Homo sapiens: one gene and its partners. The protein of the gene in region 7 interacts with the protein of the main gene of each other region in a pairwise test. Each region holds a gene or a part of one and is shown on either strand. Other genes may lie near its edges.

Evidence for each region.
Region 1: the proteins of PRR20A (region 7) and TBX3 interact in a two-hybrid assay, tested with the Homo sapiens proteins (one large-scale study listed by BioGRID).
Region 2: the proteins of PRR20A (region 7) and ZNF488 interact in a two-hybrid assay, tested with the Homo sapiens proteins (one large-scale study listed by BioGRID).
Region 3: the proteins of PRR20A (region 7) and SOX5 interact in a two-hybrid assay, tested with the Homo sapiens proteins (one large-scale study listed by BioGRID).
Region 4: the proteins of PRR20A (region 7) and ZNF385C interact in a two-hybrid assay, tested with the Homo sapiens proteins (one large-scale study listed by BioGRID).
Region 5: the proteins of PRR20A (region 7) and NEDD9 interact in a two-hybrid assay, tested with the Homo sapiens proteins (one large-scale study listed by BioGRID).
Region 6: the proteins of PRR20A (region 7) and CCNK interact in a two-hybrid assay, tested with the Homo sapiens proteins (one large-scale study listed by BioGRID).

Annotation. Positions count from the first base shown.
Region 1 is NC_000012.12:114,669,755-114,671,965, forward strand, and holds the end of TBX3 (T-box transcription factor TBX3), read right to left. Parts: coding exon 2,087-2,211; 3' UTR 501-2,086; downstream 1-500.
Region 2 is NC_000010.11:47,370,794-47,374,293, forward strand, and holds part of ZNF488 (zinc finger protein 488), read right to left. Parts: intron 1-3,500. UniProt on the Homo sapiens protein: Transcriptional repressor. Plays a role in oligodendrocyte differentiation, together with OLIG2. Mediates Notch signaling-activated formation of oligodendrocyte precursors.
Region 3 is NC_000012.12:23,537,171-23,540,670, forward strand, and holds part of SOX5 (transcription factor SOX-5), read right to left. Parts: intron 1-3,500.
Region 4 is NC_000017.11:42,028,974-42,032,473, reverse strand, and holds part of ZNF385C (zinc finger protein 385C), read left to right. Parts: intron 1-689; coding exon 690-855; intron 856-3,397; coding exon of another isoform or gene 3,398-3,400; coding exon 3,401-3,500.
Region 5 is NC_000006.12:11,185,234-11,187,668, forward strand, and holds part of NEDD9 (enhancer of filamentation 1), read right to left. Parts: intron 439-2,435; coding exon 1-438. UniProt on the Homo sapiens protein: Scaffolding protein which plays a central coordinating role for tyrosine-kinase-based signaling related to cell adhesion. As a focal adhesion protein, plays a role in embryonic fibroblast migration.
Region 6 is NC_000014.9:99,505,409-99,508,908, reverse strand, and holds part of CCNK (cyclin-K), read right to left. Parts: exon of another isoform or gene 1,834-3,500; coding exon 1,762-1,833; exon of another isoform or gene 1-1,761. UniProt on the Homo sapiens protein: Regulatory subunit of cyclin-dependent kinases that mediates activation of target kinases.
Region 7 is NC_000013.11:57,139,427-57,143,717, reverse strand, and holds the start of PRR20A (proline-rich protein 20A), read right to left. Parts: upstream 2,801-4,291; 5' UTR 2,587-2,800; intron 2,433-2,586; 5' UTR 2,414-2,432; coding exon 2,362-2,413; intron 1,341-2,361; coding exon 727-1,340; 3' UTR 1-726.

The DNA of each region.
Region 1 (2,211 bases), on a different chromosome or scaffold from region 7:
TCTGCTGGCCTTTTCCCCGAGCCAAACACACTGGTGCAAGAAGGTATTTTCGACTTGGATTCGCCAGATTGATGTCAAAACTGAGGGCGAGCTTAAAACGAAAAACATTCGTACTTGCCGAGCTTACTTTTGGTCGGATTCGGGTGGGAAAACCTGACTTAGGGAGCACATCAGTCTTTTTCCATTAAAACTTAAAAGTATCTGAAATTACCCTTCTTTCTGTATTCTCATCAGGCCCCTTTCCGTCTCCCTGCTTTGCTCCCTAATTTAAAGGAAAAGTAATTTCAGATTGAAGTGGCTCCCTTCGCTCAAGTAAGGGACTTTTGTTTTTAGCTTTGTAACTTGAGTGACATCTCATTTTGGTTCGCTGGGGGCGGTCTTAATTATTTAAAGGCGAAGGGAAGGGGGTAAACTCAGAACAAGAAGATACTAAACCCTCCCCTGACTGTCCATCTTCAGGAAAGGTTCCCAAAGAAAAAACATTTAACACAAGGCCCAAAGACATTTCAATAAAAATTTATTGAAATTTCAGTGATGTTTTAAAGAGAGGGGGAAAAATACAGAAAACCAAAGAACTCATCAACAACTATAACACAAAATATACCTTCATGAATTTGTCTTTAAACCATCTCTCAGCACCTGACTTTTGAACTGTGAATATATCTCTATAGGCAGGCACCAATTCAAAACACCGATACTGACAACAGTAGTAAATTCCACTTCGTTTTGAGGAAATCAGAGACTAGCAAATACAAATAACAAAAGAAAAATTAAAAAGTCAAACCGCAGCCTCTGCCCTCCTCCCTCCCCACAGCAATCTCAGTTATATTTTAAGGAATTTGAAGTGGAGCTGGAAAGTGGCACTCCTTCCCCAATTTTGGTGAAAATAGGAAATAGCACTTTCCCCCACTTTTGGACATTAAAAAAGAAAACAAAAATGTTGCAGACAACTCTTTTGAAAGGGTATTGGTGTTGGTGCAGGAAGTGTGTTTTCTAGTGTTAACAGCAATTCTGTGACCTGGAAATAAACCCAACTAAAGGAAAACAAGAACACAAAACCTGACAGTTGCAATTCTATTTACACAGAGCTATGTACAATGTCAATAAATTAAAGTTTAATTTTCCAAGCATTCATATTCCACCTATTTACAAGAGTTATCAAATAATTACATAAATACTTTGTCTAATAGTCTCACTTCTTTATTATTTTTTTAAAACCTTGTTATTGCATATACAGGAAAGAGAAAGAACTGTCAAAGAACGACATGAATCCTGCTACAGAGCTTAGATATAATAAATTCATTTTATGTGTTTTGCCCACTCCTTCCCTTTAAATCCCCCCCTCCCTTGGGTCACTGATTTGAGGGCAAAGGATTGGGAAAAGGGTAGGGGGCTATATTGTTTTCTCTCTAAAAGCAAGCGTTCAAAATAAAAACCACAAATACATTACTGTGGACATGCAAGAAGAGACCTACAGCGGCTCTGAAAACATCACAAGAATATTAAAAAGACACAGATTTTCTTAATATAGACTAAACAAGGATGGTAGGGACTTCCCTCCCCAAACAAAGCTGCTCAGTAATTTATTGAGAACCGATAATGCAAGTCCCTATAAAGTTTTTAATCTGCACAAACAGAATCATGTTAATGTGTTCACTTGTCCCGATTTTTTTTTTGAAAGATTTTGTTTTTGTTTCCACTTGACACAGTGAAGGAAAAATATATATATAAATCCGCACTGAGGGAGATGTCTTTGAACACCTCCCCGCCTGGTGGGCAGAGACCCAGACCAGCCTTGCTGGAAGTTGCTCTGGACATAAATGTTGGAACTCCTACCCCCAGTAGCTCAATGCAACCGACGTTTCTGAGCCCCCAGAATCTGATCCAGATCCCGGACATATAAACCACGCCAAGAAGACAGGGGCTGTCTCTAGCACATTCTCTCGAGGGAGTCCGGGGCCCCTTCCCAGACGCAACTGCAAAAGGAAGGGCTAACGCCATGGCGGGCCCGTGGTTTATTTTATATCCGACAAAGTGCACGGCAGCCTGAACTGGACTGGAATGAAAAGACGTGTCTGGGACGGGTCTACGGGGACGCGCTGCGGGACCTGTCCGGCTTGGCTTCCAAGCCGCTAACCAACCGCTGGATGCTCTGCAGTTCGCTGGTGGCCGCCTCTTTCTCCGCGCAGAGTTTGGGCGACAAGGACATGG
Region 2 (3,500 bases), on a different chromosome or scaffold from region 7:
GTGTAACCTATTCTATGCACACACACACACAAAATGCATACACCAAAGGAAAAACCCCAGGAGGAAACACAGAAAATGACCACCAGGTCATTTGTTCATTGATTCCCTCTTCCGTTCATTCCGCAAGCATTCACTGAGAGCATGCAGCATGCGGGCCCTGTGCGAGGCGCGGTAGTGACAGTGGTGATGAGGCAGTCCTGAGTTCAGCTGTACAGAACACAGGGACCTGCACATGTGCCAGTGTTGCAAACAGGCAATGGTGGCATCTAAACTGAGCTCTGAGGACCCAGAAGGGACTGCCCAGGGTTCACAAGAAGCTTGCATGGGGCCTGTGGTGTGGAAAACCTGAGGGCTCTCTGGGGAACTGAGCCTAACATAGTTCTGCAGTGGGAGAGTGCCCGGGGAGGGGCAGGATCCAGAAGCCAAAATAAAATGGACCTGACTGTTTTTAGAAATAAATGATTCATTTTTTAAGTGTGGCTATAAAGACTACGCAATAGTATGGGAAAAAAAAGCTTATAATACAATGTTAGTGTCAGATATAAACATGTTGTAAAACAAAACAGGAAAAAAGCCTATCTACCAAATAAACAAAAACATGAAAGAAAACATACCAAAGCAATAGATATGTGAAAAATAATTTTTACTATGTACATACACCATATAACATATAGTATACATAGTATGTATACATAATATACCATATAATACACTATATATGTAATGTGCTATATACTATGATGATGCTAGTATCATGGAATTTGGGGGAGTTTTTTCTCAACTTTCCAATATTTTCAAACTACTCTAGTCTTATTTTAGCATTTTGTTTTGTTCTGCAGTCAACTGTTTTAAAGGCGGCAGTGCCCTTTTCTGCTTGGTCGGGGTCAGAATTCTGTAAGGGATTCTCACGGCCCAGTGGAGCTGAAGCCTCTGTGACTTCAGAGATGCTACTTTCCTAACTGCTCCAGGAAATCATTCTGAGGTGAATTCCTCCCACTGTCTACTCTCCTTTGGAAAAGAGGAGTCCTAGCCCCCACGCTGGAGTGCTCTGGCTGGAGTTTCCTGGGAGCGGAGGGGCCTTCCCAGTGGGTGGACTATTTCTCATGGGGGCTTCACAGTCTGTTTCACACTGCCTAGAGAGACCCCTCCTCTGCCAAGCCTGGAACTGAGCATTCCCTGGGCCACAGGAACAAAAGGAGAGCTTTGGAAGAAGGGTGAAATGCCTGGGCACTCAGATCAGATCAGATCAGCTTTTAGGCAAAGTGCATTTCATTTTCTGTTCATTCATTCACTCAGTAAACATGCAAAAAGCACCTACTATGTGCCAGGCTCCAGTCTACATAAGACTGGTGACTCTCAACACTGACTGAATTCTAAGTAGTTGGAAATGACTGGAGAGTAGGGTGAGTGTGCAGTGTGGCCTGGAGAATGCATGTGGAGTTCAGAGTAGGAAGGTCCCCTGTGGAGGCCCAGAGAAAACTTCAGGGCTAGATGCAGTCCTGAAACAGCAGCCCTGGCCCTGCCCATGCTTGAATGCAGGAAGAGAACCTGAAATGTGGGGACAAAGAGCAACTGGCCAAGAACAGAGCCGGTGATGCTCAGGGGAGGGACACCCTCCTGTCAGCCCTCCCCACCCACCCCTTCTATGCACCAGCCTGTATCCAGTAACATGTCGCAAGGTCTTTGCTGGAAGCTCAAGCCTCCTCTGCTTTCTAAGCATGGAGAAGACAGAGACCAGTGTGAAGTATAGGTCAAGAAAAAAAATAAAGAGAAGGAGAAAACAGAGAAAATGCATAAAGATTCCCAGCTTTAAACCTTCTTCCACCTCCATCGTTGCCCCAAATTCCTCCAGGGCTCTCTGTCATGAAAATTTCAGAAAGTGCATGAGAAAACTTTGCAAATGAAGTCAGGGGTCACAGGCAGGGGAAAGTACTGGTCTCAGACTAGGCCAGATAAAGAAAAATATCAAAGACATCAGGAGAGCACCGACCTCGCCCATGGGATGCCTGCCGCAGTGAGATGCCACGCACCTGGCCTAAGTGAGAGGTGGACACACTCCCCTGGCAGCCACCATCTGGGGGTTCAACCTCATGTGTGTCCAGAGCTCTTGATGGGTGATGGAGGGATGGGCAGAGGCTGCTTCATCCCCACTGGAATCAGGCACCTCCTGCCGGGTGTTGACACAGATGTGAGGAAGGAAGGAAGCCACACCTATGGCAGACTGAGCTCTGTGGCTTACTCTGCCTTGGCGTGTCATGGGGCCACTGACCCCCATCACACTAGATTTTTCCAACCCCAGCAAACACACAGAACTCAGCCACCCTCACAGAGTCTCAAAAATAAAGGCTCTAGTGCTTGGCAAGTAAGAAATTAGGTCCATGCATGTGGCAAAAGTTAGACACAGTGAGCTTTGCTGGTTTTTCCCTCTGTTTTCCTTCCTCGGCAACATTCTTAAAAGAAAAATCAAAATAGTAATTACAACAAAAATGTCCTTGTTATCCTTCAGAGAGCACGGCACTGTATTTTCTTCACTCTAATGACTATTGCATCTATTTCCAAGCTTCAGACTATTAATAATACACAGGAATACCAAGAAGCAAATTAAAACAGAAAGGCACAAAAAGTAGAATGGGAAAGACGTGGGTTTGAATCTCACCTCCACGCATTTATTATGGAGCTTCAGTTGTGTAATGCAACTTCTCTGAATACTGGGCAATCGTGAAATGAGTGGGAACATAATGCATTTAAATAGGATAATAATATCTAGAAGGAGGCTCCCACCTCACCCGGCCCATGTCAGTGCCTCAGGAACGTTCATTTATTTCTTTGTGATCAAGGGACAGGAACAAAATGTACGGCATGGAGAAGTAAACAAAAGAATCAATGACTGTACACAGCCATGCTGCTGGGACATGGGACACCTTCTCCAAGCCCAAGATGGAGAGAGGCAAAGTCTTCCATAGACGGAACATCACTCTCCTAACTAAAATAGTTGCATTCTCAAAGATACAAAATGTGCCACTTTCTTAACTGAATAAACGCAGGCAGCATGGCGAGGAAGGACGGCCCAGCAGGCCTTGCCCAGTGTACCCTGAGAGAACACCAAACATTCTGCTCTTAGGTGCTCCATCCACCTACACTGTTTTATTCCCATGCCTTCACCAGATGTTGAAATGTGCTGCCAAATCAAACCTAGACGTAAGACAAACCAAAATAACAAGGAAAGCTTGCTGGTTAAGACTGAGAAACAGCGTGGGGTGGGCAAAAGCTAAGATGCTCGGGTATGAGTCTCAACTTCAGTGTTTCTAGATGGCCTTGGGCAGGTCCTTGTCCTTCAAAGATCTTGCTCAGCTGCAAAATGAGGAGGCTGCACCAGGTGTCCTCTATGGTCCTAAATACTATAAGGCGCCGAGTGACATCTTTATGTGGCATTATGATGCATCTTTTGTGATCAATCTGGTTTTTTAGACATTATTTTGACAAGCTAAAGGGCAAAAAAT
Region 3 (3,500 bases), on a different chromosome or scaffold from region 7:
ATTCCTTTGATTAAACATTTAATTATAATTAAAATTATAATATTAATAAACATGGAGTGGGTAACTACTATGTGCCAGACACTGTGCTGAAACCTTGACATACTGATGTCTTTTTCCTACCTTTCACCTCAATCTTATAAAAGAGACAGCATTTCTATCTATTTTCATAGATGAGAAAATTGAGATTCAAATAGATGGACTAACTTAGCCAGGGTCATAATTACTGAAGTACAGATCTGTGACTCAAACTCAGATTTGATATAACTTAAATTGTGCTATAATGTATGCCCTTTCCTACATATGGCCACCTACTATACAAAATATAGCAGAGGTCACAATTACTGTAAATGCGTATTACGATTTTCTCTTAATAAATCAATTTCAATAACATACAAAGACGTCACTTCCCATGATACAGTCTGCTTTAGTAATAATAACCCAAATTGTTTTCCCCCTTTCTTTTCACTATTAATTTTGGTGTGAATTTAGCTGGGATTAAAAAAGACAAGTTTGAAGCTTAAATAAAAATAGTTTATGCTAATTCACATTTTAGATATGGTTTAAAACTTGGATTCTGTCAGTATGGCTATGTGTAATAGAAGTGGTAATGTGTCCGGAATTGGTGGGTTCTTGATCTCACTGACTTCAAGAATGAAGCTGCGGACCCTCGCGGTGAGTGTTACAGTTCTCAAAGGCGGTGTGTCCGGAGTTTGTTCCTTCTGATGTTCGGATTGAGAGGTGACAGCGTGCTGGCAGCCCTCAGTAGTAATAGCGTTTTTTTTTTTTTAATAGTGATTTAAAAATCTATTTGCAGATGAAGTGTGTTTATCTGCAAATAGTCATCTCAACTCAACGCGAATGCACAAAGACCGATAAACTGGAACTAGGATATCCCTACCAAATGGCCTTATACCTGCCTTCAAATGTCATCTAAGTAAGATCTTAGAATCTTTCGAATGAGTTCATTACTCACCCGTAACTCCCTATCTTAAATGCAAATAGCTCACTGTTGAATAGTTCTTCCTTACACATGTAAAGAGTTCCTCAATATGGGCTGTTACATTTATTAAAGCATACAGTGAAAGAGGCAATATCTCTTCCCTTAGAAATGTTACCATTGGAAGAGATATTGTATTGCATAGGTATAAATATAGATTTTTCCAAATCTAGAAAGCCAATGTGAATTTATTCTATTTACAGTATAAACTCAGGTTACAGTGCAAATAATAGAGTTTCTTTTTCTATTCCTTTCGTAAACTTCTGTTTAAATAGCATCATCCAACATTAGGTTGGTTGGTCAAGCCATATCATTTGTAGGGACAATCTCAAACTCCTTGTTGGCCCAGCATTATTCTCTGAAGATACTTGAATACCATTATGTTATTCTCAGGGCCTATATAAACACAGATATGGTTATGATCCTATTGAACTAGAACAACCGTTTTCATTGAGTTTCTTCCAAGCATTTATACCAGTTTTTTGAACTTCAGATCAGGGAGTGGAAAGTGAGCTTACCATAAATAACTCACAAATAGGAATACACTGATAAATGGATCAAGGATGGTTGATCTAATATAAAATTTATTAGCTAGCTTTATCCCAAAATTCGAAAACGAAACCAGCATTTTCTTTTTTTTTTTTTTTTTTTGAGACAGAGTCTTGCTCTTTCGCCCAGGCTGGAATGCAGTGGTGTGATCTCGGCTCACTGCAAGCTCCACCTCCCGGATTCACGCCATTCTCCTGCCTCAGCCTCCCGAGTAGCTGGGACTACAGGCGCCCGCCACCACGCCCGGCTAGCTTTTTTTTTTGTATTTTTAGTGGAGATGGGGTTTCACCGTGTTAGCCAGGATGGTGTCAATCTCCTGATCTCGTGATCTGCCCGGTTCGGCCTCCCAAAGTGCCGGGATTACAGGTGTGAGCCACCACTCCTGGCCAAGCATTTTCAATTAGAAGGGGAATTGCCAAAGATTCTTCCCTAAGTTTAAATGATCTATACGCCAAAAGGCTTTGGCCTCTCAAAGGAAAGAAAATGTTTATGCTTAGAAGTAATCTGCCTTGGAATGCGAGAGCTGTTTGTTTGTATATTTCCTACTATGTACATAATGTTGCATTCATTCCTTAATAAATATATAGTAGTGAGTGAATACAGAAAGTTATAGTTCCTGTCTCTTTGCAGCTTATATTCAGTCAGGGAATATACATTAAATATCTAATTACAAAATTTATTATTTTCCTTATAGTTGTAGAAAGTACAGGAAGGTAAGAGAATATGATGAGGCAAGATCAATCCTCTGCAGGTCAGGAAGGCTTTGCTGTAGAAATGACTCCCGTGGGGCTCACAAAGAGAAGAGCATCCTATTGAGGAAGAATATAATAGTTGAGGTCTTTCGGTGGAAAGAGGAGTTAGACTAACTTAAAGAAAGCTGGTCTGGCTTAAAAAAAAAAAAAAAGAGGAAAAAAAGATGCGTGTATGTAAAGAAATGGGATAATAAAAGATGTGTAAATTCTCAGATAAGTTGGCTTCCAAATCTGGCATGAACGGGAATTATAAAATAGTTTAACTCTTGATAGTATAATTTCTTTGAGAGTATCACTGAATCCTAAATTACACTTTAAAATATGGCCATATAATAATTCCAAGTCTTTTCAAAACTAAGAATAAAGATAGGCTAAGTACTAACCGGGTCAAATGGCTGACTGACTACTATATTTTATGACAGTACAGGGCAGTGTTTCCATTTGGTGGTAAATCCAGTTTTCATTTTCAAAATAGTAACCTTGAATTAGCTTAACCAACTGACAAGTTTGGTTTTGATTTCAATGGCTTTGCAGGTACTATAACCATTGTATGCAGCTGAGGTGTTAACTAACCCCTGAAACATACTTGATGAGAATGGCAGGAAAATATTTTGGATAAACAACAATAAAAAAAAAAAAAGAGAGAAAAAATATCTACTTGATTTGGGGGTGGCTGGCTGCTTACTCTGGACTGATGTACAGGGAGTTTATTCATTCCCTGCTGCTTTCAAAAGGTTGTCGTTTTAGAATAAAAAAGCAGAGAAGGAGGGATAGCATTAGGAGATATACCTAACGCTAAATGACGAGTTAATGGGTACAGCACACCAGCATGGCACATGTATACATATGTAACTAACCTGCACATGGTGGACATGTACCCTAAAACTTAAAGTATAATAATAATAATAATAATAATAATAATAATAATAATAATAAAAAGCAGAGAAGGACAATTGGGTTTTCCTCCTGATGACAAAAGAGGAAGTTTCAATCAAAAGTATTTGATGCTCAAAATAGGGGAAAAAATAAGGTCCAACGATTATTCCTTTCCTTTCTAAATCTGGCAATACACTGAAAGTGAAGAGTTTGCGCTGGGCAACATTGTCATCTCCGTGGGGTCTGTAGTGAATTTGCACATTTTACTCCAACTAAACTACTGTATATCTAATCAGAAAAAGATGTCCCTCTTCCCCTGATCTAGC
Region 4 (3,500 bases), on a different chromosome or scaffold from region 7:
TTCATGTTCCCATGTAATTCTGACAACCCCATGAGGTCAGTATTATCATCACAGGGTTTATGGGTGAGGAGACTCAGGCTCAGAGAGATGTTACTTGCCTAAAGATGTAGTTAGTGGCCAGGCGTGGTGGCTCACGCCTGTAATCCCAGCACTTTGGGAGGCTGAGGCGGGTGGATCACGAGGCAGGAGATCGAGACCATCCTGGCTAATATGGTGAAACCCCGTCTCTACTAAAAATACAAAAAATTAGCCGGGTGTGGTGGCGGGCGCCTGTAGTCCCAGCTACCCCGGAGGCTGAGGCAGAAGAATCGCTTGAACCCGGGAGGCGGAGGTTGCAGTGAGCTGAGATGGCGCCACTGCACTCCAGCCTGGGCGACAGAGCGAGACTCCATCTCAAAAAACAAAAAACAAAAACAACAACAACAACAACAAAAAGATGTGGTTAGTAAGTGGCTGGGTCAGATCTGAAGCCAGAGGCAGCCTGCCTTGGAGTTCATGTGCGAGAACACATTCTGCAAACCTCAGAGCCACATGTGCTATGGTGATGATGATGACAAGGACAAGGACTTGCCCTTTGTGTGACCTGAGCCCTGCCTCCCTTTGACCTGTCCCCCTGCTGGGCTCCAGTTCACAGATGGGGCATGTGGACTCAGCCAGTGAATGGTGACCTCTTGCCCTCCCCTCCCCAGAACCAGGCCGAGGCACATTATAAAGGCCACAAACACGCCAGAAAACTCAAGGCTGTCGAGGCTGCCAAGAGCAAGCAGAGGCCACACACCCAGGCCCAGGATGGGGCTGTAGTGTCCCCAATCCCAACGCTGGCCAGTGGAGCCCCTGGAGAGCCACAGAGTAAAGGTCAGTCCTGAGCTCTTCTCTTTCCCACGTCTCCACTCCAAATCTGGTTTCCGACAAGGGGTTGAGAGATTTCTGCTTATTCTTTTTGCTTGTGTTGGAGTATTCCATACAGACAGGCAAAGGCACACAAGTGTACCACGCCATGAATTTTCCTAAGCTGAACACACCCAGATCAGGAAACACGTTACCAGCACCTCAGAAGCTTGTCTTGCACCTCCTCCTGGTCATTACCTTGAAGTATTCATTTCCAAGGGCTGCCTTCACAAATGACTTCATTTGTGAAGTTAGGAATGGTGGCTCACATGTTGTGATGGTTAACACTTTGGGAGGCTGAGGCGGGAGGATTGCTTTAAGCCTGGAGTTTGAGACCAGTCTGGGAAACATGGTGTGACCCTGTCTCTACAAAAAATTTATTTGCCAGGCATGATGATGCACACCTGTAGTCCCAGCTACTCAGGAGGCTGAAGCAGGAGGATCTGCTTAAGCCCAGGAGGTCGAGGCTGCAGTGAGCTATGGGTGACAGAGCAAAACCTTGTCTCTAACCTCCCCTGCCCACCCCCACCCCCAAAAAAAGAGACTACAACCTGGGTGACTGAAAACAACAAAAATTTATTTTCACACAGCTCTGGAGGCCAGAAGTCTGAAATCAAGGCGTTGACAGCATTGGTTCCTTCTTGGGGGCTTAGAGGAGAAAGTGTCCCATGCTTCTCTTCTGGCCTTTGGTGGCTGCCAGTATTCCTTGGCACTCCTTGGCTTATAGACGCATCACTCCAATCTCCACCTCCATCTCCACATTCTCCCTTGTGTGTCCCTGTGTTTCCACAAGCTCTTTTTATAAGGGTACCAGTCACTAGATCAATCCCACCCGAACCCAGCATGACCTCATCTTAACTAATTTTATCTTCAAAGACCCTGTTTCCAAATAAGGTCACATTCTGAGGTTCCAGATAGATGTGAATTTTGGGGGAGACACTATTCAACTAACTACAACCCCTCTGATGGTAAATACGATCCTGACTTTTCTCAGCATAGATCAGCTTTACCTATTTTTGGTGAAACATAGAGTGTGCAGGGGTTTTTTTGTATCTGTTTTGTTTTGTGGGTTTTTTTTGTTTTGTTTGTTTGTTTTTTGAGACAGAGTCTCGCTCTGTCTCCCAGGCTGGAGCACAGCGGTGCAATCTTGGCTCACTGCAACCTCTGCTTCCTGGGTTCAAGCCATTCTCCTACCTCAGCCTTCCAAGTAGCTGGGACTACAGGTACCTGCCACCACGTCCAGCTAATTTTTGTATTTTTAGTAGAAACGGGGTTTCACCATATTGGCCAGGCTGGTCTCGAACTCCTGACCTTGTGATCCACCCACCTCGGCCTCCCAAAGTGCTGGGATTACAGGCGTGAGCCACCCTGCCTGGCCGGTATCTAGTTTTTATTCATCTCTCACAAACATTCATCAACATTCATTATATCTGTAAGATTCATCCATGTTTTTGCGTGTAGCTGTAGTTTGTTCTCTTTCATTGCTGTGTAGTACTCCACCGTGGATCATACCACTATTTTTTTTTAATTTAAATTCTTAAAAGCTCTTTTTTTTTTTGAGACAGGGTCTGGCTCTGTCACCCAGGCTGGAGTGCAGTGGTGTGACCTAGGCTCATCCACCTCCCTGGCTCTCAAGCGATTCTCCTGCCTCAGCCTCCCAAGTAGTTGGAACTATAGGCATGTGCCACCATGCCTGGCTAATTTTTGTATTTTTAGTACAGATGGTGTTTCGCTGTGTCACCCAGTCTGGTCTCGAAGTCCTGGACTCAAGTGATCTGCTAACCTTGGCCTCCCAAAGTGTTGGGATCACAGGCGTGAGCCACTGCGTCTGGCCCATACCACTGTGTTTTTTTTGTTTGTTTGTTTGTTTTTGAGATGGCGTTTCACTCTGTCGCCCAGGCTGGAGTGCAGTGGTGTGATCTCAGTTCACTGTAACCTCCACCTTGCAGGTTCAAGCGATTCTCCTGCCTCAGCCTCCCGAGTAGCTGGGATTATAGGCATGTGCCACCACGCCTAATTCTGTATTTTTAGTAGAGATAGGGTTTCACCATGTTGGCCAGGCCAGTCTCGAACTCCTGACCTTAGGTGATCCACCTGCCTCGGCCTCCCAAAGTGCTCGGATTACAGACATGAGCCACCGTATCCAGCCCGCACCATTGTTTTTTAAAAATCTGCTCTCCTGTTGGTGGACATGTGGGTAGTTTCAGTTTTATGATATTATGAATAGTGTTCTCTGAACATTCTAGTACATCTTTTTTGGTGATCTCTGTTTAAGTTAGCAAATAAGGATATGAGGGCTGTGAGGGCTTTCTGAGACCACTGTGTCCAACTTAATGATTTCAGATGGGGAAACTGAGGCCCAAGTCTGCCCAGTGAGTTGGTAGAAAAGTGGGGCCTGGAATTCAGTGCTGGTCATCCACCAGGGGCCCTCCAGGCCACCTCCATGGTCAGAGCTGAAGATCGTGGTCTGCAGCGTCATCTTGGGTCTCACACTCTTCCATCTCTGCAGCAGTTCCTGCAGCCCCTCCTCTTGGGCCTCCACTCCAGCCACCACCAACTCCAGACCCTACATGCAGGGAGCCAGCCCACTCAGAGCTCTTGGATGCTGCCTC
Region 5 (2,435 bases), on a different chromosome or scaffold from region 7:
CACCATTTCCTGCAGGGCCGTGGTGCTGGGGTAATGGAGGGCGGCCATCTTGGTTGCCATGACTATGGTCTTGAGCTGCTCGCAGAGCTGGTTGCTGGAGTTCATGACTTTGTTGCGAATGTCCTGGGCAGTCACCTGCCGTGTCAGCGTGTCTCCAATGAACACCAGTTTGTGTGCACTGAGGATGACAAACTTGCTGTGTGCCACGAAGATTCGCGGGGGCTGGGCTGAGCTGACACAACTGAAGAGTGCGTCAATGGCGTTGAGAAGGGAAATGAAATGGGTCTCACATTGGTCATAGTAGAAGCACAGCAACTGCCGATCCTGAGCACTCACGCCACTGTTTGTGGTGGGTAGGCTCTGAGAGGGCTTCCACTTCGAGATGTCATTCTCCACGGGCTTTGTAATCTCTTGTTCCAACAGCTGGAACTGGCTCAGCTGCAAGGAAGACGAAAGCAGATCTCATTAGAGCAAGGGAGTGTGTTGCAATGGAAATTCACTAGGCCTTGGAGTTAAAAGACAGGGATTTTAGTCGCTAGTAACTGTCAGATGCATGTGAGCTGTAAAGCCTGGGTCAAGCTGCCTTGCTTTCCTAAATTGTAAAATGTAGACGTTGGGAAAGATGATCCTCAAGCTCAGACCTTCTATGATTGGACTACTGGTCTCTTGTACCCTCTGGCTAGAAGGTAGCATAGTGTTTAAACCGCAGCCCTGTTACCTACACCTTTATGGAGGTTAAATGAGTTAACGTTTACAAAATGCTTATAATAGTTTGGTATGTAGTAGGCTCTATGTAAATGTTTATTAATGTTGAGGGGTGGCAAGGGAAAACCAAATGTAGTGACCTCCTTGTCAAGTAAGTCACTGACAGTTTGCTCCTTCTCGGAGAAAGCCTCGACTATCTCAGGATGCTCAGATGAAATGACCATTCATGACCCCTTTCTGTTTATCCTACTCTTTCTGTCAAGATTGATAGACATGTTATGATCCAGCACTACAGGAAGATTAATGCATATAAATATATGAGCACTTAAGGAAAAAAAGTTTCTAAGGCAGTCTGAATGGGAATTGTGCATCATAATATTTAGTCCCCCAGAGCTGTTAAAAGAAGGGGGTTTTACCCAGAGTCAGATGCATCAGGTGCTGGCTTTCTTCCTTCTTTCCTCATTGCTACCAAATGGTGTATTATTTAAATTGCAATTATAATAATTTCTAGGGATTCCACTAAGACTCAAGAGAGACCTCTCTTCTGCAGATAAGGACTATCTGTGACCTGAGCTTCAGACTCAGTTAATCTCCCACCTGGACGTAGGGATGAGCTGGAGCAGTGATCACCTCACCCAGCTTCCCCAGCTTCTCTGAGAGATGCACAGCCAGCTTTACTTTACTTTTCTTTTTTTTTGAGACAGAGTCTTGCTCTGTCACCCAGGCTGGAGTGCAGTGGCACGATCTTGGCTCACTGCAAGCTCCGCCTCCCAGGTTCACACCATTCTCCTGCCTCAGCCTCCCAAGTAGCTGGGACTACAGGCGCCCGCCACCATGCCTGGCTAATTTTTTGTATTTTTAGTGAGACGGGGTTTCATTGTGTTAGCCAGGATGGTCTCGATCTCCTGACCTCATGATCCGCCCGTCTCGGCCTCCCAAAGTGCTGGGATTACAGGTGTGAGCCACCGTGCCCAGCCTTCAACAGCTTTACTTTTCTAGAATCTGTTTTCTTCTTAGCGATTGCTATGGTTTCTACAAGTTCCCCAAAGCCCTGCAGTCTTACCTTGCCAGATGCCAAGGCAAACATAAATAGGTACAAGGTGATATTCCAAGGTATTTAATCATAATGGATTATATTTTATATATCTTAGGCTTTATGCAAATATGTTCATCAATATATCATGTCATTAGATGGGGGGGGTACTTTCCCATTTTATAGGGAAGTAACTGAAGCTCGGGGAGGTTACCTGACTTGACATAGTTGGTTGGCCAGAAAGGATTAGAACTCAGATTTCCTAAATATAGCATGCCATTTCATGTCATTACATGCCATTTCACTTCATTTCATCTTAAAAGGCTTGTAAATAAATCCTCAATCCATCTCTCTTTATTTGTATGCCCTTGTTCTAGCAATAGTCGTCATTATCTCCCCTACTCATACCCAGCTTTTGAATGAACATGCCCTGCCCAAAGTCCTCAGTAGATAGGCCTGGATATATGTTGAAAACATTGAATTCTGCTCTCCTACCTTTAGATTGGACCAAGGCCAGGCAAACCATAGGCTTGTGTTGCTGGCGAAAGAGAGACAAATAGCGAGGTAGAGACAGAAAGAGAGAGAGAGAGAGAGAAAGAGAAATGGCCCAATCAACGTGGCCCAATCAGACTCTTTCTTGGGAATCTGATGAACAAGAGAAGGGAGCTAACCATCGGAAGAGGAAGCCGAGATGAAA
Region 6 (3,500 bases), on a different chromosome or scaffold from region 7:
GAGGTGCAGAAAAGTGCTGACACCCTTCAATGCCTCCTGTGTGTCACTCCACAGCCACCTGGGCCCACAGGCCTGCTCCTCCACCTTGCAGAAATCAACTTTTCCAACACTCGACCCTGTAGCCTGAATCTTCAAGTCACCAGTGTGCCTGCCCTTGTGCTGTGTGACTGAGCTGGAACAGCAAGTGGGGGTCTCTCCTGGGCACCCCATTCCCTCTCTGTACACTTGCTCCTGACCAAGTCCCACACACTGCCACCAAACTGCTCCCTAAACATCACTGCTGACCTGAATGCCTCTTCCCATGGCCTAGGGCCTCCCAGGAAGCGTACTTCCCTCCCTTCCTCACGGCCCAGCTTTACTGCGCCTCCCAGGCCCTGCTCTCTTCAGCCATGGCCTCCTGGCAGTGTATCTGGCACCCAGGTCCCACTCAAGTCCCAGGCCTACTCCTGGCTATCTGTAATGGGGGAGGGAGCAGAGCTCTGAGGCCTCCACAGCAGCTACTCAGTGCCCTGGAGGTAGCAGCACCCCTGTGGCTGCCCCAGGCTCCCCAGATAAACCACCCATCTCCTCAGTGAAGGCACAGCCCCAGGCTCGGACCAGGGGAACTGCACTTGGCGAGGAGGTGCTCCATAAATGCTTCATGAGCAACCACAGGCATTTAAGTAAGGTTCATATTGAATTGGGGGTTTTGGGATTTGGCCCCAAAGTGGAAAATGACGCCTCTGTTCTCCCAAAGCACAAACACTATCATGATTGAGTAGGAACAGAAATGTAATCTGTGGCACATCTGTTACGGGCACACAGTGCTGTCAGCCCCAGTGTGAGCCACGTGCACCGACCAACAGTGAGTGTAGCAGGCTGGAGGAGCTGCTGACAGAGGCTTGGAAGCCTCCGGAGTATCGACCACCTTTTGGAGAGCAAGCACAGGTCACTCTGGCCTTCTCTAGCGCATCACCTTCTGAAATGGTGCCACAGGTAAAGAATGCCATCTACTTTACAGCTTTTCTCCTCTATTGCCAGCGGTATCAGAGAGGCTTTCCAGCTTACCATGTACTACTTGTTGAGAACTTTTCACTCTTTCATTTACTCTCTGTACAATTGCTTATTCTTCAGAATGCACTAAGACGACACACTGCCAATAGGAAGCAGGTGTAGGGGCGGCCGGAGCCTAGTAGCCACAGTAACCCTGCCTCTATCTCAGAAGGCGGGGTTTGGCTTTCTTTCCTAAAACTGATTCTAATACAATGTGTAGTTTAGCATTTCTGGATGTGAGAGGTCGGAAAATATTCAGATATACTTAACAATTTACAACATTCTCAAAATACCTGGTCAAAATCAGAACTTTGAGACACGGTCTCCCTCTCACCCAGGCTGGAGTACGGTGGTGCAATCATAGCTCACTGCAGCCTTGACTGCCCAGGGCTCAAATGATCTTCCCATCTCAGACTCCTAAGTAGTTGGGACTACAGGTGTGTGCTACCACACCTGGCTAATTTTTTAGACAGGGTCTCACTTTGTTGCCCAGGCTGACCTCGAACTCCTGGGGTCAGGTGATTCTCCTGCCTCCGCCTCCCAAAGTGCTGGGATCAAAAACACAAGCCATTGTGCCCAGCCCAAGAACAATTTTGCAAAGATTCCTGCCTGTGGCTGACATTGTCAATCTGGGCCCCAGTCTCCCTTTTCTAAGTTCCCAGGACCTGCTGCGTCCAACATTCAGAGGCGATGTGCACAGCTGGCCAAGCTGCTTCAGCAGATGCTTACCTGGAGGTGGGTGGGCTGGAGGCAACGGTGGATGAGTGGTCTCAATTTTGGGGATTTTAGGTGGTGGTGGTTCTACAAAGAAAAAGCAGATTAGAAAACCACTCATACTTCTTCACATGAATAAGCATGTCATAAAGAAAAATGTACTGGCAGAGATTTCTTTGGGAGAAAAACAACAGAGATGACCAAGGCTTTAAGGGAACTTGAAGAAGGTTTCAGCTAAACCATTATGCATGAATCCTGTTAACAAATTAAATGCCACCTCCCTCCAAAAGACCTGCGAGCTTCCCACAGGCAGCCCATTTTCCATGTCTACCTAAGTTTCCTTGCTGACCACTTCACTCAAGTCCTTCCGACCATGTGAGACCAGCAGAGCAACGTCTTCATGAGCATGTATGACCTATCTGGAGTCCTCCCTGGTACAGAGGACACAAAGAAGGGTCCAGAGTAGCAACATCATGTCACTGAGTCCCCTGAGGGTTCCACAAGAGAATCTCTATCTTTTCATTCTTAGACATAGTTTATTCTCTCTTTCCCAAATACTGACTTCCAGTTGGCAGCATGTCAGAAGCAGCACATTAACTGGAGTCAGCAGAGCTCTGGAGGTTGACACACTGATGGCAGGAAGAATGTGCCGCTCACAAAAGCCCAGCAGTCAGGACCCCTTGAGGTGGAGGAAACAGCCCACCCTTCCGGGGTCAGGCAGCGGCACGCAGCCAGAATCCACAATGACAGCACTAGGTCTCCAAGGCAGCCCAAGGGAAGTCCAATCTCATCCGTTTAAGAAGGCAGCGTGCACATCACAACTGAAAAAGAACCCTATTTTTCTGTTTGCATGCTGAGGCTTTTTCTTCCTGAAATGTACTTTCTTCTGGCTTGTACACCACTCAGATCTGAGTCTCCTCTGCCATCACTGGCCTCTTTCTCTGGATTTCCTCCATCTCAAATACAGGCTCAATTTAAGTTCCAGGGACTTCCTCTCTCTTCACCCTCTTCCTCAGAGTCCAAAGCCCCTCTCTAAGTGGACAACTACAAACCTACATTTCTAGCGTCCATCTTGCCACCAAAACCATGGCCCATCCCTAGACCCACCAATCAGCACCTCACACTCTACCTTTTGCCTCTGTATCCTATAACTGCTATTACTCTCACCTCAGGGACCCACCTCCTGCCTTTTTCCACAGCTGGTAATAGTTAGCTAAAGCCGTCTACATCAGGGCTGTCCAACAGCAATATAACTGAGAGCCACATATCTACAATTTTAAACTTTCCAGGAGCCATTTTATTTTTTGAGACAGGGTCTCGCTCTGTCACCCAGGCTGGAGTGTAGTAATGTAATCATGGCTCACTGCAGCTTCAACCAACCAGGCTCAAGTGATCTTGCTGCCTGAGTCTCCCAAGTAGCTGGGACCATAGGTGTGGCGCCACCACGCCGAGCTGATTTTTAAGTTTTGTGTAGTGATGGGGTCACCCTATGTGGCCCAGTCTGGCCTGGAACTCCTGGGCTCAAAGCATGCCTTGGCCTCCCAAAGTGCTGGGATTACAAGTGTGCCAGGAACCACTTTAACAAGAAAAAGGAGCACTCCAGCCTGCATTAACAGAGCAAGACTCTGGAAATAAAAGGAAAAAGGATAAAATTTATTTAACCCGATAGATCGAAAATTTTATTTCAACATGTAACCAATATAAAGCTTTACTAATGAGATGTCTTACGTTCTCCTTTCTTGGAAATCTCTGTG
Region 7 (4,291 bases):
GGAAGCCAAGGACACTGCCGTCAAATTACTGATTCCTGGTTTAGCGGTTCCAGTGAGTCATGCACTCTCCTTGCTTCCGTTAACCGCCCCCCCCCCCACCCCAACACCTTTTGTCTGATTCGTCACATGTCCTTTGATCCCCTTTTTCCTCAATCTGTTTGAAATTTTACCTTCTATTCCAATTCATTTAGTGGTTCCCAAAGGGTACCCACGTTGAGACTTAAAAATGTGTCAGTCTAGATTTTTATTGCTCTTATATTCAGCCAGTCTATCGTCTCCAGGCACTAGAGAAGCACTTTAGTAACTTCTAGCTCCTTCTGAGTTTTCGCATGTCCCACATGTCTATATGAGTGTCTTCTGGAATTTTAATTCTAGGTCATCAATCCTTTTTCCAGAATCGTACTTCTCTGGACTTAAGAATACAGTTTCCTAATTTCCATGCTTAGTGATCCTTGTTGCATCCCACTTCTTCCAGGTTGTCTGGGTTGGCTTCTTCTTGGCTGAAAAACGTGACGTGTACTTTCACTGTACATGACAGTTCCATTCCAATCGCCTTGTACAGAAAGGGTGTTTGGCAGCTTGCATGTTGTAAGTTGCGTACTCCAAGTTCAGGGGAAGCTCAGGCTTCAGGTCCAGTCGGGGGAGGAGTGGAGCAGAAGTGGGGCTGGGGGGAACGTCCAGGTGGAAGGAAGGGAGGCTGGGAACAACGTGGGTGGCAGATAGTGGTCAATACGCAATGTCGGTGAGGAACACTGGGACCCCTTGCACGTAGGTGCCCTGGGGGGTTTGAATGACTTGTAAAACCGCTGAGTCACCCAGAGCCCTAAACCCGATGCAGGGATAGAGGGTCAAGACGGGTTGCCAGTCAACAGCCTGAGGCCCAGGAGCAGCGGGCGGCTCCTGAAACCCCAGCTCAGGTTGCGCCACGTCGGGGCCAGGGCCTTCCTGCACAGTTCCAGGCGGAGGACCTGTTTCAGAAAGGGAGAAGGCTGCGGTCTCCGTGATTTCCGGTTCCCCCTGGTGGCCTGGCTCTCCATGGTGGTCCAGTTGGATGTGCACGTCCGGTGCCATCAAGCCTTCTGCCCCCTGTCTCTGGCCAGCGTCCCCGCGGGGCCCAGCCCTTCTGCCACGGCCTCGCCCTGGCCGCCGGCTTCCTCCCCGGCGCCGGCCTCTCTCTGCAGGAGGGGGTGACTCTGGGCGAGCTGGGGGCTGCCGTCTGAAGGGTTTCACGTAAGCGATGGGTTTTGCGGGTTGGGCTGGCTGTGCGGGCCCATCTGCTTCCACGGAGCCTTCAGGGTCCGCAACACAGCAGCCTGGCTCTGGAGGAGGCCCACCTGAGGCTAAAAGAGAAGCGGAGCGTGAGCAGAGAGAGACAGAAGGAACTTCACCCGTCAAGCAGTTATAGGATACTTTTACAAATAAATACTCAGAGAAAAGAGGGATTTCTGAAGTTAAAATTGTGAGAGAAGAAACAAAACTCTCCACGGAAGTTGGAGAATGAAGTTGAGAAGGTCTCCCACAGAACAAAGCAAAAACCTAAAATGATGGAAAGAAGGATGAAATATAAGAGAATTAGAGGTATGCTGTGGCTGAGACATTTCACCAGAAAATTTCAGAGTGCTGAGGAAAAAGAGAAGATTCTAACAGATTCTAGAGAGCGGGAGACAGAGAAAGGAAAAGTCACATGGAAAGGGCTAGGATTCCACATGTCTCAAAAGTCAGACATCTCAAAAGCAGCAGTTCAGTCTAGAACATAACAGAAAATGTCTTCGAAATTTCAAGGGAAATGAATTTCCCACCTAAAATTTCCTGTCCAACCGAAGTTTCGCTGAAGAATCTGGGAGGGGAGAATGAAGATGTTTCAGACAAGCAAGATGTTAAAGAATTTCCTTTCAGTGGATGCTTTATTGTTATGCATCTGTCAAACTAGACAAGATTAAAAGATTTAGGACACTCAGCGTATGAAGGGAAAAGTTTTGGAGAACAACGTGGCAACAGCCGGAAAATTCCAACTCCTCCGGGAAAGAACAAGGTGGAAGTACCGGTTTATCATAGATCAAGACGTAGCGTGAGGACTCGCTCTGCTACGGAGAAACAGTAATACAAAACTAAACAGAAGGAAACAGCGACAACAACAGCAAATCTCAGATTTGGGAAATGGGATTACGGTTCGGAAGAGGGAAAGGAATTTCCCAGATGATGTGGAACCCGGGAGCTGACTTCCAACAAGCAGCCCAGGTTGAGGCAGGCTAGGAGAAGGTGAAACAGAGAATGCTTGATTGAGTTTGAGTGTCAACCATTGGGGAAGAATTGGGGAACAGACGAAATTAAAAAGAGAGGAGTGGCAGGCGTTTGATGTACCTTGATTAGGGGCCATGGAGCGAAGTCGCTTCGAAGGCCTTGGTTCCTCCATGAGCAATCGGCGGGAGGGGCTGGGGAGAAAAACAAGAGAGCAAGAACGGATTTAGGAAGACAGAGGTGACAAGGCAGGGGGATGGCCGTGGCCTTTCTAGGGGAATGAGGATTCTGTCCCCAACTGCACCCACCCGAGATCCGTCCACGCCTCCGGGACCCCCAGACACACACCTGATCTTCCCACAGCTGGCTCCGGAGATCTGAAAATTAGGAGACTCTTCGACGAAGAGAGGCCCGAGGAGTCGGAGGTGTCCACAGGTTCACCGCTGTAGCTCTGAGGTAGTCCACCCGCAGCCAGGGAGTCTGGAGGGAGCACGCAGCAGGTTCTGGCTCCGAGCCCAGCAGAAAGCCGACTGCTGGAGGCCGAGCGCCGTCCCTCTTATATGGCAGCAAGGCAGTCGCGTAAGGGACAGGCGTCGTCAGAGGGGGGCCGGCTGGGGCGGGCCTGGCTGGGCTTGCGAGGCGCATTGGGCCAGTCCCCTGCCAGTCAAATGGGGGCCCTTCTGAGATGCCGCCATTTCTAGACGTCCGTGGTTGATTGATTAATCTAATCATCGAGGAAAAAAAATTGCATAATGACCTCTGAGTGTCAGCACAATGAGGTGTGGTGCCCTGAAAGCGGCTGACAGGAAGATGCGATTAGCTTAGATCTGAGCATGGTCAAGGAAAGCATCCAAAGCGGGGATATCTGGGCTGAAATCTGGAACATAACGTTTGAAATTAGTCATCCTGAACCGGGTTGGGAGAGGCAGGGAGGGAGGAAGGGGAGTGAAGAGAGTGTGCTGAGGCCCGGACTGGAAGGGAGCCCGGCACATTCTGGGAATGGACGGGAGGCCAAGTCCAGGCCCGGAGGTGGTGCGTGTGAGACGGGGCTGGAGATGCGTGTGAGACCCACACCGCTGGCTTTTATTGCTGTGGGTGCACTCACGGGTGGAGGAAGACAGCGGGAAACACAGCAGGACGCTGGAGGGGATCCCACAGTGGGTTATTTGGTTGGTTTGCATCCTTGTGTTTTTTACAGAGACTGGTTCTCGCTCTGTAGCCCAGGCTGGAGTGCAGCGGTGCCATCTCGGCTCGCTGCGGCTACTTGGGGGGGTTGGGGGGGGGTGGCTGAGATAGGAGAATCAGTTCAAGTGATTCTCCTGTCTCGGCCTCCGGAGTAGCTGGACTACAGGTGAGCGCCACCACATCGGGATAATTTTCGGATTTTTTTGGAGAGACGAGTTTTCGCTATGTGCCCAGGCTTGTTTGGAAGGCCTGAGCTCAAGCCGTCCGTCCCGCTCAACCTCCCGAGTCGCTGGGACCCCAGGCGCAAGCCACCATGCCGGGCCAATTACTTTTTTGGGTTGTATTTCCTGTTGAAGTGAGGTTTTGCTATGCTTTCACCTCACATACCTTTTCTGTCCCAAGACCCCATCCAGGGTACCACCTTACAACTCGTCACGGTTCCCCTTGGCTGCGACGGTTTCTCACACTTGCCTTGTTTTTGATGACTCTGACACTTTGAATACTGATCAGATATATTGTGGGATGTCCTCTCCTGAAGTTCGTGTGATGTATTCCTTGTGATCTGACTGGAATTATATGTTTTTGTCAGGAAGATTGCAGCGGGAAAGCGCCATTCCCATCCCATCCTGTCTAGAGTACACACCATCAAGCCGGCTTATCACTGCTGCTATTAGTCCTGGTCACCGGGCTGGGGCAGTGTTGATTAGGTTTCTCCACCATAAAGTGATTTTCCCACCTCTTTCTCTACTGTGCTTTCTGGAAGTCGCTACCTGTAGCCTATACGTAAAGAAAAGGGAAGTTTTGCTTTATCTCCTTGCAGGGGAATAGCTACCTAAGTTCTGTGGAGTTCTCCTGTGTGGAGGATTTT